Homo sapiens: one gene and its partners. The protein of the gene in region 4 purifies or fractionates together with the protein of the main gene of each other region. This does not show direct contact. Each region holds a gene or a part of one and is shown on either strand. Other genes may lie near its edges.

The links.
Region 1: the proteins of ODAPH (region 4) and KIAA0232 purify together in Homo sapiens (affinity purification with mass spectrometry; 2 studies listed by BioGRID and IntAct, with this or other methods). This does not show direct contact.
Region 2: the proteins of ODAPH (region 4) and AHCYL2 purify together in Homo sapiens (affinity purification with mass spectrometry; 2 studies listed by BioGRID and IntAct, with this or other methods). This does not show direct contact.
Region 3: the proteins of ODAPH (region 4) and PMVK purify together in Homo sapiens (affinity purification with mass spectrometry; 2 studies listed by BioGRID and IntAct, with this or other methods). This does not show direct contact.

What each region holds. Positions count from the first base shown.
Region 1 is NC_000004.12:6,876,727-6,881,002, forward strand, and holds part of KIAA0232 (uncharacterized protein KIAA0232), read left to right. Parts: coding exon 1-31; intron 32-4,060; coding exon 4,061-4,240; 3' UTR 4,241-4,276.
Region 2 is NC_000007.14:129,403,030-129,407,305, forward strand, and holds part of AHCYL2 (adenosylhomocysteinase 3), read left to right. Parts: intron 1-349; coding exon 350-456; intron 457-2,067; coding exon 2,068-2,184; intron 2,185-2,806; coding exon 2,807-2,870; intron 2,871-3,348; coding exon 3,349-3,437; intron 3,438-4,276. UniProt on the Homo sapiens protein: May regulate the electrogenic sodium/bicarbonate cotransporter SLC4A4 activity and Mg(2+)-sensitivity. On the contrary of its homolog AHCYL1, does not regulate ITPR1 sensitivity to inositol 1,4,5-trisphosphate.
Region 3 is NC_000001.11:154,925,944-154,930,219, reverse strand, and holds part of PMVK (phosphomevalonate kinase), read left to right. Parts: intron 1-1,043; coding exon 1,044-1,196; intron 1,197-3,736; coding exon 3,737-3,866; intron 3,867-4,276. UniProt on the Homo sapiens protein: Catalyzes the reversible ATP-dependent phosphorylation of mevalonate 5-phosphate to produce mevalonate diphosphate and ADP, a key step in the mevalonic acid mediated biosynthesis of isopentenyl diphosphate and other polyisoprenoid metabolites.
Region 4 is NC_000004.12:75,558,183-75,562,860, reverse strand, and holds part of ODAPH (odontogenesis associated phosphoprotein isoform 2 precursor), read right to left. Parts: intron 1-4,678. UniProt on the Homo sapiens protein: May promote nucleation of hydroxyapatite.

The sequences.
Region 1 (4,276 bases), about 69 Mb from region 4:
TAATGAAGAGCGCCTGTTAGATTTTAATAGGGTAAGTGGACTGTCCTCCTCCTCGTCATTAACTTACAAACAGCCACCACCTCCAGTTGTCACTGTAGTCAAAAACCTGGGAGTCATGTGAGTGGACCCCACCTCTCCCAGGAACCAGCCAGGCCTGTGGGTGCAGACTTCCTGTTCTCTGGCCTTTGTTCTGAGTCTGCATTCTCCCCCGCTTCCAAACCCCCTTGACTGTTGACTGCCAGTGCTTCCTGAAGAATCCCCAGCTCTCTCCCCAGTCTTGGCTCTACACTACTGCCCGAGGGCATTGCATTACAAATGCAGAGCTGACCCTGTTGCTCCTTGGGTGGGCACACTTTTCATCTTTTTTTTTTTTGTTTACCTAATAAGTGGGAGACCTAGCCTTGTCCTCTTTGAAAGTGCACCCTGAGGCAGCCTTGCCAGTGTGCTTGTTGCCGCTGTCCCGGCTTCTGCAGAACGATCCCGCCCTTTCCGTGTCCTCCTGCACTCTGTGCACGACTCTTCTTGCTGTAGCCAGAGCATGTACTTGCGTTCCGTTTCTGCATGTCTGCCTCTTCCACAAGCCTGTGGGCACCACGAAGGCGGGAGCGGGGCCTCCGCCTGGTTTAGTCTCGTCTTAGACCTTCCCCGGTTAAGAGGCAGGCAGGCAAATGAACCTAAGGAAAATTCTTTTTATTTGGTGTGAATTGTCAGTGTATTAGGGTTCTCCAGAGGGACAGAACTAATGGAATAGGTATATATATACACAAAGGGGAGTTTATTAAGTATTAACTCACACGATCACAAGGTCCCACAATAGGCCATCTGCAAGCTGAGGAGGAAGGAGAGCCAGTCCCAGTCCCAGTCCCAAAACTGAAGAACTTGGAGTCCGATGTTCGAGGGCAGGAAGCATCCAGCATGGGAGAAGATGTAGGCTGGGAGGCTAGGCCAGTCTAGTCTTTTCACATTTTTCTGCCTGCTTTATATTCTAGCCACGCTGGCAGCTGACTAGATGGTGCCCACCCAGATGAAGGGTGGGTCTGCCTTTCCCAGCCCACTGGATCAAATGTTAATCTCCTTTGGCAACACCCCCACAGACACACCCAGGATCAGTACTTTGCATCCTTTAATCCAATCAAGTTGACACTCAGTATTAACCATAACAAGTCCACCCCTTGTCAATTTGAACCCATACACATCTCCTGAAATTATATGTAATCTTCAAATAAAGACAATAAGGTCATAATTATACCTAACATAATACAGCTATGCTTCATACAACCGGAAAAGCACCAATCCCAAACCCAAGTACTATTACATAGAGTTAACAATACTTAAATGCTGATATGAAGTCAATAAATCTTATGTCAGCCGGGCGCTGTGGCTCACGCTTGTAATCCCATCATTTTGGAAGGCCAAGGTGGGCAGATCACCTGAGGTCAGGAGTTCAAGACCAGCCTGGCCAACATGGCGAAACCCCATCTCTACTAAAAATACAAAAATTAGCCGGGCGTGATGGTGCACCCCTGTAATCCCAGCTACTTGGGAGGCTGAAGCTGGAGAATTGCTTGAACCCAGGAGGTAGAGATTGCAGTGAGCTGAGATCGCACCACTGCACTCCAGCCTGGGTGACAGAGCAAAACTCCATCATTCATTCATACATACATACATACATACATACATACATACATAAATATATACATACATAAATCTTGTGTCACATGATAAAGGACAAAAAATAAAATGAGATTTTCTTAGTACAAGTGTATACATGCACAAACGTGTTTTTAACGAAGGAGGAAATACTCCTCAAGACAATTACAGTCCTGGTTTCTGCACCTGGTCACATGGTCGTAGCTGGTATTGATGACTACCTTCTTCTACTACCCATTCTGTATTCCCTTTGCCTTCAGCAAGCACCTCAGCAGGTTGTGGTTTTTTCCCGGTGGAGTGACCTAAACCTTCATTCCTAAAGAGTCTGAGCCATTTGTATCCTGTCTGGACTGGGCTGTTGTAGTTTCCCGTTAACTTGAATCACACGGCATGTGATCAAGTTGACACTCAGTATTAACCATCTGTCAGTGTCCATTCAAGTCCTGTGAGAACTGTCTGCCCAAGCACCTGTAGCATCATCGTCCACGTCCTGCTGCCCACTGACCTGTCCGGCTCCACACATGAAGGCAGATGTTTGAGGCCCCCACCAGCTCTCTCCTCAGTGACTAGTTCACATCATCCCTCCAGCCTCAAACCCCAAACTGAGACATATTCCCCAGTCCTCTCTCTCATCTTCCACACACAGTCTGCCTGCCAGTCCTGACCGTTCCCCGCTGTCAGCCACTTCGCATCTCCCACTTCTCCTCCTCTCCATCATTACCACTTTGTTCAAGCCACTGTCCCTGCTCCTGAACAGCTGCCATGGTCTTTTCATTGTCCTTCCTGCTTTCGTCATCCTTTCCAGCCTTCTCTCCACACAGCAGACAGAATGACCTCACGAGCAGTATCTTGTTCAGTCCTCACAACGACCCTGTGAGGTAGGTACTGTTGTCATGCCTGTTCTGCAAAATAGGAAAGTGAAGCACAAAAACATCAGGCGCCGTGTATCCGAGGCCAGAGAGCCACAGCTTCAGTGTGGACCTGAACTCTGAACCTCAGCAGTCTGCCTCTAGGACCCATACTGCTAACCATGATGTCACTTTGCTGTTGCATTTGAGACAGATCCAAACTCCCCGCCACGCCTCTACAGCCCTGTATGTTTTGCCCCCGTCTGCCTTTGACCTCATCTGTCTCTGCTCTCCCCTTACTCTGTGTGGCTTTTCTGTGCTTCTGCCTCAGGGGTTCTCAACCAGGGGCAATGCTGCCATTTGGAAATGAGGTGGGAGTGCTGCTAGTTACTATGGCAGGGTGAGGGGAGCTTTGTAATGACTGTGACTGAGGAGGGGCCACCACTGCATCTCATGTCCTGGGGTCCAGAGATGCTGACCATCTGGTGTAGGGGAGACAGTCCGACACCACAGAGTGTTGGCACCTCTGCATGGCTGGCTTCTCAGCTGAGCGGGCCTCTTCTCCAAAGAACTCCCTTCCCAACACACCCATCTGCAGTGCCCCCCCTCACCATCTGTACTGTGTCACTGCAAACTCCCTTCCCAACACACAGGTCTGCAGTGTCCCCTCACCATCTGTACTGTGTCACTGCAAACTCCCTTCCCAACACACCCGTCTGCAGTGCCCCCTCACCATCTGTACTGTGTCACTGCAAACTCCCTTCCCAACACACAGGTCTGTAGTGTCGCCTCACCATCTGTACTGTGTCACTGCAAACTCCCTTCCCAACACAGAGGTCTGCAGTGTCCCCTCACCATCTGTACTGTGTCACTGCAAACTCCCTTCCCAACACACAGGTCTGTAGTGTCGCCTCACCATCTGTACTGTGTCACTGCAAACTCCCTTCCCAACACAGAGGTCTGCAGTGTCCCCTCACCATCTGTACTGTGTCACTGCAAACTCCCTTCCCAACACAGAGGTCTGCAGTGTCCCCTCACCATCTGTACTGTGTCACTGCAAACTCCCTTCCCAACACACAGGTCTGTAGTGTCGCCTCACCATCTGTACTGTGTCACTGCAAACTCCCTTCCCAACACACCCGTCTGCAGTGCCCCCCTCACCATCGGTACTGTGTCACTGCAACTGGCACATGTTGGTTTGCTCGTTCATCTCCCCAGCGAGCCTGGCATGCGCCTTCCACTGCTGGAGTCCCTGTGCCCAGTAAAGTTCCTGGTGCATAGCAGGTACTCAAAGACTTTGAAAATGAAATAATTCTTTATCCTACCCTAACATGGCTAACATTTTGTCCAAGTGACTGAACATGTGGAATTAGGATTTTGGATCCTTCATGGATCAGAGAAGAGAGGCGGTTTTGCTCTGAAACAGTAAAACTCTGCATGTTTGTAACTCCACAGGAAAACACTGATGATTTATTATTTCTTCTTTGTATATAGATAGAGTATCTCACCCTTTTGGGGAAAAAAAAGTCTTTTTGATGTGTTGAAAATTGTTTTAATCTTAGGTGTCTTCTGTTTATGAAGCAAGATGTACAGGAGAGAGAGATTCTGGAGCAAAGTCAGATGGCTTCCGCGGAAAGATGTGCTCCAGCGCCAGCTCCACCTCGGAAGAGACAGGCTCAGAAGGCGGAGGCGAGTGGGTGGGCCCTAGTGAAGAGGAGCTCTTTTCTCGAACTCATCTCTAAACCTGCAAAATAGTACAAATTATTGTTTAAAAATGA
Region 2 (4,276 bases), on a different chromosome or scaffold from region 4:
CCTATAGTAGATTCAAGATCTAGTGGCCTAGTAACTACAAGTTACCAATCCATAAGAAAATCCTCGGTTAGTTGCTGTATATTTTGATACAGTAGATATGTCACGGGGAGGGTCGTTTGGCTGCGCGAATTACAATTGGCCTTTCTCCTCTCATTGTCTTTTACTTCAATATAATGACTATTTGGCAGATTATTGTATTTACTCTGGCTTTAAGTTACTTTGCATAACCATATGGGAAATTTTAAATATCTGTAAATTGCTAATTAGATTGGGATGCAAGACCCAGAGAAGCACTGAAGCCTTGAGACTTCAGCAAAGTGAATGATGTTATTGATGCTTACTATTGCAGATCTTGGATGATGGAGGGGATCTTACCCACTGGATTTATAAAAAGTATCCCAACATGTTTAAGAAAATCAAGGGCATAGTAGAGGAGAGTGTTACTGGAGTTCACAGGTAAGATTTGACATGGGCATACCTGGTTTTATGCAGTCTAGACATAAAATCTTATAAACACATACCTATAAAACACATGTTAAAAATTGGAGCCTGGGCCAGGCGCGGTGGCTCACGCCTGTAATCCCAGCACTTTGGGAGGCTGAGGTGGGCGGATCACGAGGTCAGGAGATCAAGACCATCCTGGCTAACACGGTGAAACCCCGTCTCTACTAAAAATACAAAAAAATTAGCCTGGTGTGGTGGGCGCCTGTGGTCCCAGCTACTCGGGAGGCTGAGGGAGGAGAATGGCATGAACCCAGGAGGCGGAGCTTGCAGTGAGCAGAGATCATGCCACTGCACTCCAGCCTGGGTGACAGAGCGAGACTCCATCTCAAAAAAAAAAAAAAAAAAAAAAAAAAAAAAATTGGAGCCTGCTATGAGGTAACCACATCTCAGCTTGCTATGAGGTGACCAGATCTCAGCTTGCTATGAGGTGAGCAGATCTCTCTTGTTTTTTTTTTTTAATTAACAACACAAATAATGAACCTAAAATAGTGAGAAGGGGGCAGGTGGGAGAACAAGTGAAGTCCTCATGTTTTCTAGTGATTGTAAACAATTAACTTGTCCTTTTTGGACACATATATTCATTCATTCATTCAACAAATATTTATTGAACTTCTACAATGAATGAGGAACTGCTCTAGATGCTAGGAATCTAGCAGTAGACAAAACAGACAGAAAAAAACTCTGCCATCTTAGAGCTTACATTCTTACATGGAGAGCAAGGATGTAGGGTTCTGCTTCTCAAATGAGTAATAATTCTCTGAGTAAAATTGGAATTATTTCAGTTCAATTTCTGTGATCATTTCTATGATTTATTTCACCCATAAAGAACTAAAAGTATGAAAAAAAAAAGTTGTAGGGAAGTAAATTCTGAACCAGCCACCATCACTGCTTCAATACATTATCATCTTTTTGAATGTACAAAACTGAGGTCAGGAGTTCAAGACCAGCCTGGCCAACGTGGTGAAACCCCGTCTCTACTAAAAATACAAAAATTAGCTGAGTGTGGTGGCGGGCGCCTATAATCCCAGCTACTCAGGAGTCTGAAGCACAAAAATCGCTTGAACCCTGGAGGCAGAGGTTGCAGTAAGCTGAGATCACACCATTGCTCTCCAGCGGGGACAACAAGAGTGAGACTCCATCTCAAAACAAACAAACAAACAATAAAAGCACAAACAGCCAGGCGTAGTCTCATGCACTTGTAGTTCTGGCAGGCAGGGAGACCAGTGCAGATTTAGTGAACATTGTACCTAGTAGGTAATTTTTCAACCTTCAACCCGCTCCCACTCTCCCACTTTTTATAGTCTCCAGTGAAGGCCTTAAAATTTAGAGGTGGGTCAAGGATTTCCCCCACATGACTTTTGAATAAAATCTTTATTGTGAAGCTATATATGCAGGCTCTAGAAAGATATTCTTTATTTCTCAGTGGCCACCTAACAGGATGAAACTAGTCATGTCTCATGGTCTCATGCCTACCCAATCAACGTATTTCTGGGGCCTCCTATGAAAGCAATGGTAGATTGTAATGTCCTGGTGTTTTTTGTTCTTGGCTTCCCTCATCCTCAGGCTGTACCAACTGTCCAAAGCTGGGAAGCTGTGTGTTCCAGCCATGAATGTCAATGACTCAGTCACCAAACAGAAATTTGACAACCTCTACTGTTGCCGTGAATCAATTCTTGATGGGTAATGTTTATTATCTTTGAGATGAAGTTGTGATGTCCAGTTGAGATTCTAAGTTTTTTGGCTTTGGTTATTTCTGGAAAGGATTCATGTAGCACCTCTGGATAATGTCTCCATAAAGCCAGAGCTTTGTCACCTCATAAATTAAAATTACATTATTTTTATTTTCTCCTTTGTATCTTTTCTATTTCTAAATATTATATTTTCAAAATATTATCTAATAAATGTATGTTGCTTTTATGTTTAAAAGTTACTGTGTTATCTACATCTTCTTCCTTTCTGCACCACTTGCAAGAAAGGGGAAAAAAAAAGGAAAAAAACCCTTACATATAGGATTGGTTAGATGGCAGGGAGTGAGAAAATATGTATTTTATTTAACCTTCCTGTCTGGTCATTAGTTTCTCTAGGATAGAAACCAGACTTTCAGTGTTACAGGTCTTTTAGAATTTGTCTAGCAGGTTTTCTGGTCTTTACCAGAAAACCCCTTTAAAAAAATAAAGAAACCAGACTTTCTTTCAAAATGAAAAACCAACCAAAAAACCCCATGAAAACAAAGAGATTCAATCTAACCTCAAGGGAGAAACAAGAGAAGATTTTTCTGATTTAATGTTTTTTTTTCCCCTAGACTTAAAAGGACAACAGACATGATGTTTGGTGGAAAGCAAGTGGTAGTCTGTGGCTATGGAGAGGTGAAGTTTAACCTTTTGTTTATTAGGTGTTTTAAATGGATTTTGTTGAAATATTCTGGAATTTTTTATTTGTATGGACATATGAGTACACCCTTTACCACTTTAGATGAGAAAAAGAATTTCAGAGGCCTTCTGGTTGAAGTAGACTTTCTTTTTCCCTTTGCGTTGCCGCCATTTTCCCTTAAGTTGATTTTCTGACTTGCTCCAGTACCACCGTTTGTGATGTTCTTTTTAGCTTGTGTTTTAATTATGAATCGTGAGTGTGGGTGTTCTTGTGCACATGAATGCGATAAGCAGGAGCCAGGGGTTTGTTTATGAGCTGCATTCAATTATTTGTTCTTCTCGTTTTCCCCAAGTATGAATCTATTCAGTGAAATTCCTCTCGGGGGTGGAAAGAGGGGGTGCACTTTACCAGAAGCTTTGAGAAATGGTTTTCTCAGTGACTTTCCTTAATATGTGTGCTCTCTCCCCTCTTCAGGTGGGGAAAGGGTGCTGTGCTGCCCTGAAAGCCATGGGCTCCATTGTGTATGTAACTGAAATTGACCCCATCTGTGCCCTGCAAGCCTGGTAAGCCTCTACGCTACCATCTCACTTGCAATCTCGGAGCTGTCTCCAAAGAATGGCCTGGTTGATGCCACACTTTATTTTAGAGGAGCCCAGATCCTCAGAGATGCTGCCACTAACTCTAAGCATCTGTCTTTTAAAAAGGTCAAGGAGCTCTGCTTGGAGAGAGCAGAGACTATCAGAAAAGCGAAAATTTAGAAATCCTGTGGAGATAGTAACAGGGATTCTGTCAGCCAGAGAACAGGTAGCCCCTTACCTTCTCCATGTATGATACTTGCCTTTCAAATAATGATCAGAAAAGAAATTGGCAGGCATCAGATGCCTTCTGATGTGTTACACTGAAAATAGCCCTTCTGTGGTATTCCTCCCAAAAATGTATAACCTGAATCTAATTGTGAGGAAACATTAGACCAATCCCAGTTAAGGGTAAAATCTACTAACTCTGAGTGAAGCATATATGAGAATTATTTACACTAGTATTATAATTCTTAAGTTTGAAATGATTCTAAAATTAAAAGTTAAAACTTTTCTTATCTATAAAATGTGTGTAATCATACCTACCTCATAGGATTGTGAGAGTTCAGTAAAATAATAATTAGCATAGGCTGGGTGTAATGGGTTCATGCCTGTAATCCCAGCACTTTGGGAGGCTGAGGCAGGAGGATTGCTTGCGCCCAGGAGTTCGAGACCAGCCTTGGCAACATAGGGAGACCCCATCTCTACAAATAATTTTTTTAAATTAGCTGGGTGTGGTGGTGCATGCCTGTGGTCCCAGCTACTTGGGAGGCTGAAGTATGAGTATCACCTAAGCCTGGGAGGTGGAGGCTGCAGTGAGTTGTGAT
Region 3 (4,276 bases), on a different chromosome or scaffold from region 4:
CCAAAGTGCTGGGATTACAGGCGTGAGCCACTGTGCCTGGCCAGTTTGCATTTTTAAAAGCTCCATGGAAGACTCTGATAGGCCAGACTGCCCTTGCTCTGTGCAAGTCCAGCACCACTCTATCCCCCACTCCCATTAAAAAACAAAACCAAAATGAAATGTTCATGCATTGATTTCCTAAGTCACAAGAAGAAATATAACCAACAAGTAGACCACAACGCTCCTGGAGGGAAACTGGTTCAGGAGCAGGAGGTGGCTACTGACCTCCTCTTGCAGCAAGGGGAGCAGGTGGGTGATCAAGAAATTGAGAGCCTGAGGGGAGAAGGTCTTGTTGCAGTGAGTTCATGGAGGAGCCAGAATCTGAACGAGGTGATGCTTTTCAGACCCCTCCTATCCTGGATCCCTTTGGATGGACCCCTCTGCTTGGAAAGGGGAGAAAGGAGTTCCCCAGGGTGGTCAGAGTAACCTCTCCTGCCTTGGGGGTCCTCTGGGTGTGGGAGGCCTTGCAAGTGCCCAGAGCCAGATGGAGTGATGCTGTTTCAGCAAAGGCGCCAGGAATTTGGGGATGGGAAGGGGTAAGGGGGAGAGAAAGGAGACACAATCTCCGTGGGATTTGGGATGGGGGCAAACAATGCTAGTGGGAGGACATGGAGTGCAGGATTTTTTTTCCCCCCTCAGATTTCCCACTTTAGTTGAAGGCTAAGCCTTTGCCCAGGGGATGCAAACTAATTTCAGTATTAGTTTAAGCCAGAAATAATTGGGAAGGTAAAACTTGCAAAAGAGAAACCACGCCACATATTTCAAAGACAAATTGAAACAATTTCTGGATTATCCCCAGACCTTTCTTCTGTCTACCAGTGATCGGGATTTCTTAGTTGCTGAGACTCTTGCCCTTGCAGACCTTTGTCCTGGCTGAAACCTCATTAATCCTTGCATCAGCCCTGGGGGAGGCAGGTGAGGGTGAGGGATGGCTCTTCCGCTGTTTTAGGAGAGACCACTGAGGTTGAAAGGCCGGTGACGTAGACATAATGTCCTTTGGGCAGGAGCATGGCTTGAACTTCCAGAGACTCCTGGACACCAGCACCTACAAGGAGGCCTTTCGGAAGGACATGATCCGCTGGGGAGAGGAGAAACGCCAGGCTGACCCAGGCTTCTTTTGCAGGAAGATTGTGGAGGGCATCTCCCAGCCCATCTGGGTAAGAGGGCTCCATGGCAGCATGAAGAACACCTGTTTCCCTAGCTCTTCGCTGTGTCCATCTCTCTCTGTCTCCACTGCCACCATCCTGGCCCAAGCCCCCACCATTTCTGGCCTGGACAGTCGCAGTAGCCTCCACACTGGTCTCTAGCTGTGGCTCTTGCCCTCTGTGGTCTATTCATTACACAGTAGCCAGACTGACCTTTTATTATTTATTTATTTATTTATTTATTTATTTATTTATTTATTTTTGAGATGGAGTCTCACACTTGTCGCCTGGGCTGGAGTGCAGTGGCGCAATCTTGGCTCACTGCAACCTCTGCCTCCTGGGTTTAAGTGATTCTTCTGCCTCAGCCTCCCAAGCAGCTGGGACTACAGGTGTCCACCACCACGCCTGGCTAATTTTTGTATTTTTAGTAGAGACGGGTTTTCACCATGTTGGCCAGGCTGGTCTCGAACTCCTGACCTCAGGTGATCCACCCACCTTGGCCTCCCAAAATAGTGGGATTACAGGTGTGAGCCACTGCATGCGGCCCAGACTGACCTTTTAAAAACGTGAACCAGGTGATGTCACTCTTCTGTTTAGAATACTTTGGTGGCTTCCCATTGTGCTCATGAACAAAATGAAAATCCTTCACATGAACTTCTGGGCCTTGTGTGATCCAGTTTCTGCTACTTTTTTAGCCTCCTTACTCCTTAAGCTGTAGCAACACTGGCCTTCTTGGTCCTCAAGTCAGTCGAACTCCTTCTGGAATCAGGGCCTTTGCACATGCCCTTCCACCTGTCTGGACTGCCCTTTCTTTCTCTTTCCCTGGTTAGCTTCAGCTCAGTTGACATGACACCTCCACAGGGAAGCCTTCCCTAATATTCAGGTCTTAACTGGTGCTCCCTGGCAGGTGCTCCTATAGCACCCTACCCCTTTTTTTCCTCATTCATTCTGGCAGTGAATATTGAGTGTCTACTTCTGCCAGGTGTGGTTGCATGTTGTGGGGATATATTGGTGCAAAAGCGCAATGAAATCTCTTCCTTCAGGGAGCTTACATTACAGCTGAGGGTGGCGGGGAGATAGGCACAGAATAAATACAGAATATATCAGGCAGTGGTAAATACTAAGGAGTAAAATAAAGTAGGCCTAGGATATGAGGAGAGATAGGGAAGCGTTGCTGTTTTATTAAGGGTGCCTGGGAAGGCTACACTGATATGATGATGTTTGAGCAAGACCTGAAGGAAATAAGGGATAACTGAATGGATATTTGGGGAAGTAGCTTTCCAGAGAGAGGGAGGAGGAAGTGCAGAGGCTTGAGTGGTGAGTGTGCCTGGTGTGTCTGAGGACAAGCCAGGTGGCCAGAGTGGTGGAAGGTCAGGTCAGACTTCCCAGGGCGGACCTTTGGGAGAGCTGGGATTTTATTCTGAGTGAGATGGGGAGTCACTACAGCGTTCTAAGCAGAGGAGAGACATGATCTGATTTCAGATTGAGAAGCCTGGCCATAGCTGCTGTGGGGAAGATGGGAGCAGAAGCACAGGGGCCGGGTGGAGGACTTTCCTGTGTTTTTTTTTTTTTTTTTTTTTTTTTTTTGAGACAGAGTCTCACTCTTGTCACCAAGGCTGGAGTGCGGTGGCGCGATCTCAGCTCACTCTACCCTCTGCCTTGTGGGTTTAAGCGATTCTTGTGCATCAGCCTCCCGAGTAGCTGGGATTACAGGCATGTGCCATCATGCCCAACTAATTTTTTTTGTATTTTTAGTCGAGACGGTGTTTTACCATTTGGCAAAATTTGAACTCCTGACCTCAAGTGAACCACCCACCTCGGCCTCCCAAAATGCTGGGATTACAGGCATGAGCCACCATGCCTGGCCAGGACCTTTCTGTAACAGACAAAATGACTATGGTTGGGGCGCAGAGGGGAGCAAACGTAGAGTGGAGAGAAGGGGTCAATTTTGCGTGTATTTTGAAGAGAAAACCAACAGGATTTGCCCTTGGGTTGGCTGTGGGGTGTGAGAGACTATACCAAGGATTTTGTTCTGAGCAGGTGGACAAATATAGAATTATCATTTTCTAAGACAGGGAAGGTGGGGAGGAACAGGATTGGAGAGGAAATCAGGAGTTGAGTTTCAGCCGTGTTGAGGTTGAGACACTTGTTGACATACACTGTAATCACATGGTTATTTGATTACTGAATACTTGTTCAGTGTCTCCCACTAGACTGTAAGCTCTGAGAGGGCAGGCACAGGGTCTGTTTTGCTTACCAGTCTAGCCTTAGCACCTAGCACAGTGACCAGCGTACAGTAGGTACTTACTATAATACTTGTTTAATTGGATTAATGAACTTGTCAGCAGCACTGCCTGACATGTAGTCAGCACTCAGTGGTGTATGTTCAATGAATGAATGAATCCGTGAATAGTGAGTCTAGCTGCTGACATGCTCACGATGATGGGGGGGTAGAGCCACACCCCACACTGCCCTGGGTTCTGTAGTCCTCCCACCTCCCCTCACTTCTATCATCCTGTCCTGTTGGTCACCTGTCTGTCCCTCTCCTGCAGCTGGTGAGTGACACACGGAGAGTGTCTGACATCCAGTGGTTTCGGGAGGCCTATGGGGCCGTGACGCAGACGGTCCGCGTTGTAGCGTTGGAGCAGAGCCGACAGCAGCGGGGCTGGGTGTTCACGCCAGGTGAGCCACTCTATGTGTAGGGCACAGGAGGACACAGGCTACCCACCCTGTGGTTTGTCTACCGGGCAGGCCTGGGGGAAGTGAATAAGGGATGATAAAGGAGAATCTGAGGCCTCCTGATTAGGGAGTAGCATGGTGGACAGAATCCTGAGGGTCAAGGTTCCCTTGGCTTAACCTAGGCTATCTTCTCATGGCCAGTGGGCTGCTTTGGTGGTCTGGCTGGGACCCACCCCCATGATTCTTCACCTTTGCTTTCCAGCCCAGTAGGGGCTGACAGTGGTCAGGGGCAAACCTGACAAAGCTCACTTCTGTTTAACACAGTAGTGGAGTTAGAAGTTAGTAGTGGAGAGGAAGTTCTGCTGGGAGCTTCAGTGGTGCAAGCCCAGGACCCGCTCTGTGGGCTTCAGAAG
Region 4 (4,678 bases):
GAAGGGAGGGACCATCTACAAGCAGCAGGAGAAAGAGCACTGAGAACCAGGATACAATTACTTTTTGAGAAGAAATTTGGATCAAACCCAAGTGTCATAGTCTTCCTTGGCTGTGTCATTGAATCAAATTGGCTACAAAAAAGTAATCTTTTCTTTAGAAAATTGTTCCTTCACTCCCTTAGAGGCTTACATATACAGCCTGGAAAGGGCTGCCAGTGTGAATGATGATAAAATGAACTTCCCTTGTAATCCCAGCACTTTGGGAGGCCGAGGTGGGCGGATCACCTGAGGTCAGTAGTTCGAGACCAGCCTGACCAACATGGAGAAACCCTGTCTCTACTAAAAATACAAAAATTAGCCGGGCGTGGTGGTGCATGCCTGTAATCCCAGCTACTCGGGAGGCTGAGGCAGGAGAATTGCTTGAACCCGGGAGGTGGAGGTTGCGGTGAGCCGAGATTGCGCCATTGCACTCCAGCCTGGGCAACGAGAGCAAAACTCCGTCTCAAAAAAAAAAAAAAAAAGAACTTCCCACAGGAAGTTGAGAGTGCTGAGGCACTTATAAAGGACTAGATTCCCCTCTCATTTGGGACAGTTGAATTCAGGTTTCTTGGCTGTATTGGATACGCTTGTTACTTGCCTATGTCCACAGTCCCTCATACATATATTCTGTTTCATCGACGAACCCTGGAAATGTCAGTTGTCAGTCCTACGCACCTTCTGGCTATGGCTGATTGGACCACTGATAGACACTCAACTCATTCACTGTCTGGTCAGTGACCAATCAGATTCTCACTTAAGAATTGAGCCACAGTGGAAGACGTCAGTGGAAGGTGTAGGGCAGGGGCTGGAGTGTCAGGTTTTGTCCTGTGGAATGTTGAGAATGCAGAGAAGCCAGTCTGCACATAGAAGCAGCAAAATAGGGAAGGCTTCCGGGACAGAGGAAGAGACCAGAGCCTTGTGGTAACAGAGTGATGTTGGGAGCAGCAGCCTTGGTGTGTGTGTGTTTCTTTTTTTTCGACGGAGTCTCCATCTGTTCCCCAGGCTTGAGTGCAGTGGTGAGATCTCGGCTCACTGCAGCCTCCACCTCCTGGGTTCAAGTGATTCTCCTGCCTCAGCCTCTTGAGTAGCTGGGATTACAGGTGCCCGCCACCACGCCTAGCTAATTTTTGTATTTTTAGTAGAGATGGGGTTTCCCCATGTTGGCCAGGCTGGTCTCAAACTCCTGACCTCAAGTGATCCACTTGCCTTGGGCCTCTCAAAGTGCTGGTGTTATAGGCGTGAGCCACCATGGCCGGCCAGTTTTTGGCTTTTCAGGGAGCCCTAGCTATTCTTAAGTTTCTTGGAGATATCCTTATAATAATCAATCTACCTCCAGCTCTACTTGTTTCTAAAGCTAGCTTGAATGGGTGTCTGTTCCTTGAACAAAATACCAACCCCTTCTCCCACAGCTACTCAGGGTACATTGAAATTCTAAAACTGAAACTAGATTGAGACACTTTAAACTGCAGAAAACGACCAAATCCCACATTAGTAGCTTTTTTCCTGCTAAGTTCTGAACCTTACAGGAAGAAGACATTCTGCCAAGAATCTAGTCGCTAGGAGAGAAGCTAGTCTCGTTTTTTTTTTTTTTTTTTTTTGAGATTGAGTTTCGCTCTGTTGCCCAGGCTGGAGTGCAGTGGCGCGATCTCGGCTCACTGCAAGCTCCGCCTCCCGGGTTCACGCCATTCTCCTGCCTCAGCCTCCCGAGTAGCCGGGACTACAGGCGCGCGCCACCACGCCCGGCTAATTCTTTTTTTAAAATACTTTTAGTAGAGACGAGGTTTCACCGTGTTAGCCAGGCTGGTCTCGATCTCCTGACCTCGTGATCCGCCCGCCTCGGCCTCCCAAAGTGCTGGGATTACAGGCGTGGCCACCACGCCCGGCCAAGCTAGCCTCTCTTTTAAGCCCCATCTTGACATTTTGCTGTCAGCTCAGGCTTAACGAGGCCTTGAGCTCTGCCACTAGGTTAACTGTGCTCCAGCTGTTAAAAACCACCCACCCACCCGCCTCTTGTGCTCATTTCATTTCTAGAAACCTGAAGCTACTCTCTAAATCCTCCTCTAACAATTGGGTTTCAGAGCCTGCAAGGCAAGTTTTCTCTGACTCTGGGATGTCCAGTAGTGTTCAGTGCTCTCTTTTTCTGGGAATTTTCAAGGGTTCAAGATCAAGGTATAAGCTTGCTTCAATCACTTACCCAGGAATGTGGGCAGGACCCCATAAAACCACATTCTTCCAAACAAACTAGACCTATGGTGATCCTATCGGGTCGCTAGTTAGCTAGCACAAGTGTCCTAAAATGTGGGAACAATAGTGATTGGTTTGGGAACCTGTCACATCTTACAAAGTTAGGGCCACACATCTGAGAAAGTGGGTTGATGCCATTTATGGTCTGTGACTTCAGCTGATCTAACACTGCTCATTAATTCTTTTATCTTTGTTCTTCTCTGTTCCTTATCTTCTAAACCTTTGCTATCTTCTCAAATTTCCCTCAAAATTTTCATTCTTCATTCATCTGAAGAATTTGCTTTGAAACTCTCTCTACCTTTCTAAGTTGATTAATCAGCTTCATATTCCGGAGAGAAAGCTGAGGTAATCTGCCATGAACTTCTTTGGTTCCTACTCCTCTCTCTTTAAAGTCTGTACACCTACTGATTCCACTTCTCCCCCTATTTAATCCATTGGAATCTAACCCTGCCTCCTTCCCTCTCCAAAAACCACTTTGGCAAAAGTCATCAATTGTCCTGGGCTTCTGAAAAGGTGGTTGCAGATGCCCAGAGCACTCTTTGCCTGGCTAACTCCTGTTCAAGTCTCTCTCTCTCTCTCTTTTTGTCAGGGAGGCCTTTCCTACCCAGAGGCTTGGTTAAAACCCTTTGCAACATGCTTTCTTAGCACCCTGTGAGTCCACTTTCATCATACTCATCAGCTGTGTGATTATTATTCAGTGGCTATATGCCTGCTCCACTGAAAGATCTACGTGACCGTCTTGTAGACTGCTGCCTCCTCATCCCTAGCACGGTGCCTCCAGTACAATTGAATTGATTGAGAGAAATCTCAGTTTCTATAATTGCAAAGTTACCAAGTTCCTACTTCTCAGGAGTAGTGTGTTGAATAATAAGCAAATATTTCCCCGTATGTAACATACTGACATGCTATCAAAGGCACTGGATGTCAAAGATGAGAGCTCTTCTGCAAGCTTAATAAGACCAAAGTAGGTCAAATATTTAAATGTAGATTAAAAACATTTTGAGAGGCAGAATAGCAAAGTGTTTAAAAGGATAGGCTCTAGAGCCAGGCTTCCTGAGCTCTGCCATTTCATAACTGGGTGAACACAGATAGATTCCTTAACCTCTTTGAGTCTCATTTTCCTCCTTTGTAAAATGAAGAAAAGAATACTACCCATCTCATCATCTCTTTGTGAGTGTTACCGGAAATAAAATGTGTAAAGTGCTGAGAACATTGCTGGACATACAGTTCACACTTAATAAGTGTTAGCTACGGTTATTAATCTTGAATGTTATGGAAACATTCTGTTAGCCTGAGCACCATTTTCTTAGGCCCATAAAATTTGTGCATTAAAGATAGGGCTACTGGGGACACACGTTACTAGAATAGGACCTCGCCAATGACAGGGACTGTTGACTCTTGGTCACTGCCGGTGTCTCCAGCACCTAGAATAGTCCCTGGCTTATAGTGGTGCTCAGTAAATACTTGATGAGTTAAATGGTCAGGCCGACCTTGAATGTTCCTCTCTGTATATTTTGTGGAGTTCAGTGAGTATTTAATTTCAGTCGCAGAAAATCTGCAATAATAAATTATATTAAAAATTGGCTGGGCGTGGTGGCTTACACTTATAATCCCAGCACTTTGGGAGGCTGAGCCAGGCAGATTACTTAAGCTCAGGAGTTCAAGACCAGCCTGGCCAACATGGTGAAACCTCGTCTCTACTAAAAACACAAAAATTAGCCGGGCATGGTGGCAGACACTTGTAATCCCAGCTACTCTGGAGGCTGAGGCAGGAGAATCATCTGAACCCAGGAGGCGGAGGTTGCAGTGAGCTGAGATAGTGCCACTGCACACTCCAGCCTGGGCGACAGAGGGAGACCCTGTCTCAAACAAACATACAAACAAACAAACAAAAAAATTAGAGTATAATAGAAAAAACAAGGCAAAATATTGCTTGGAATTTGAATATCAGTTTTAAGGTGGTTTATTATAGTCTAGACATGAAATTCACAGCATACCAACAACTACTTTAAAAACAAGTACTTTTTTAAAAAAAGGTAATGATGAAAGACCTTTTTTTTTTTTTATAATTACCTATACTCTGTGGTTATTTGGGCAGACAAAGCTGGCTTGCAGTGAACTATACTGATTTTAAGAGAAGTCAGCTTTCTACTTAAAGTTTAAGTGTGCAGTTCTTCCCTTACATGGTGCATGGAGTCTTAGAAACTAATTCTCATGTGCTTTCAGACTTGAGCCAGAAAGAATAAGTTCTATGATTGATTTACTCACAATAACTGCAAAACTCAATTTATTTTGTAGACTCAAAGAATGACTATCTTGGTCAAATCTCTAATTTCACAGATAAAATATCAGAGCCCAGAAAGTATCAGACAGGCCCCTTTCAATTCTATGCTGT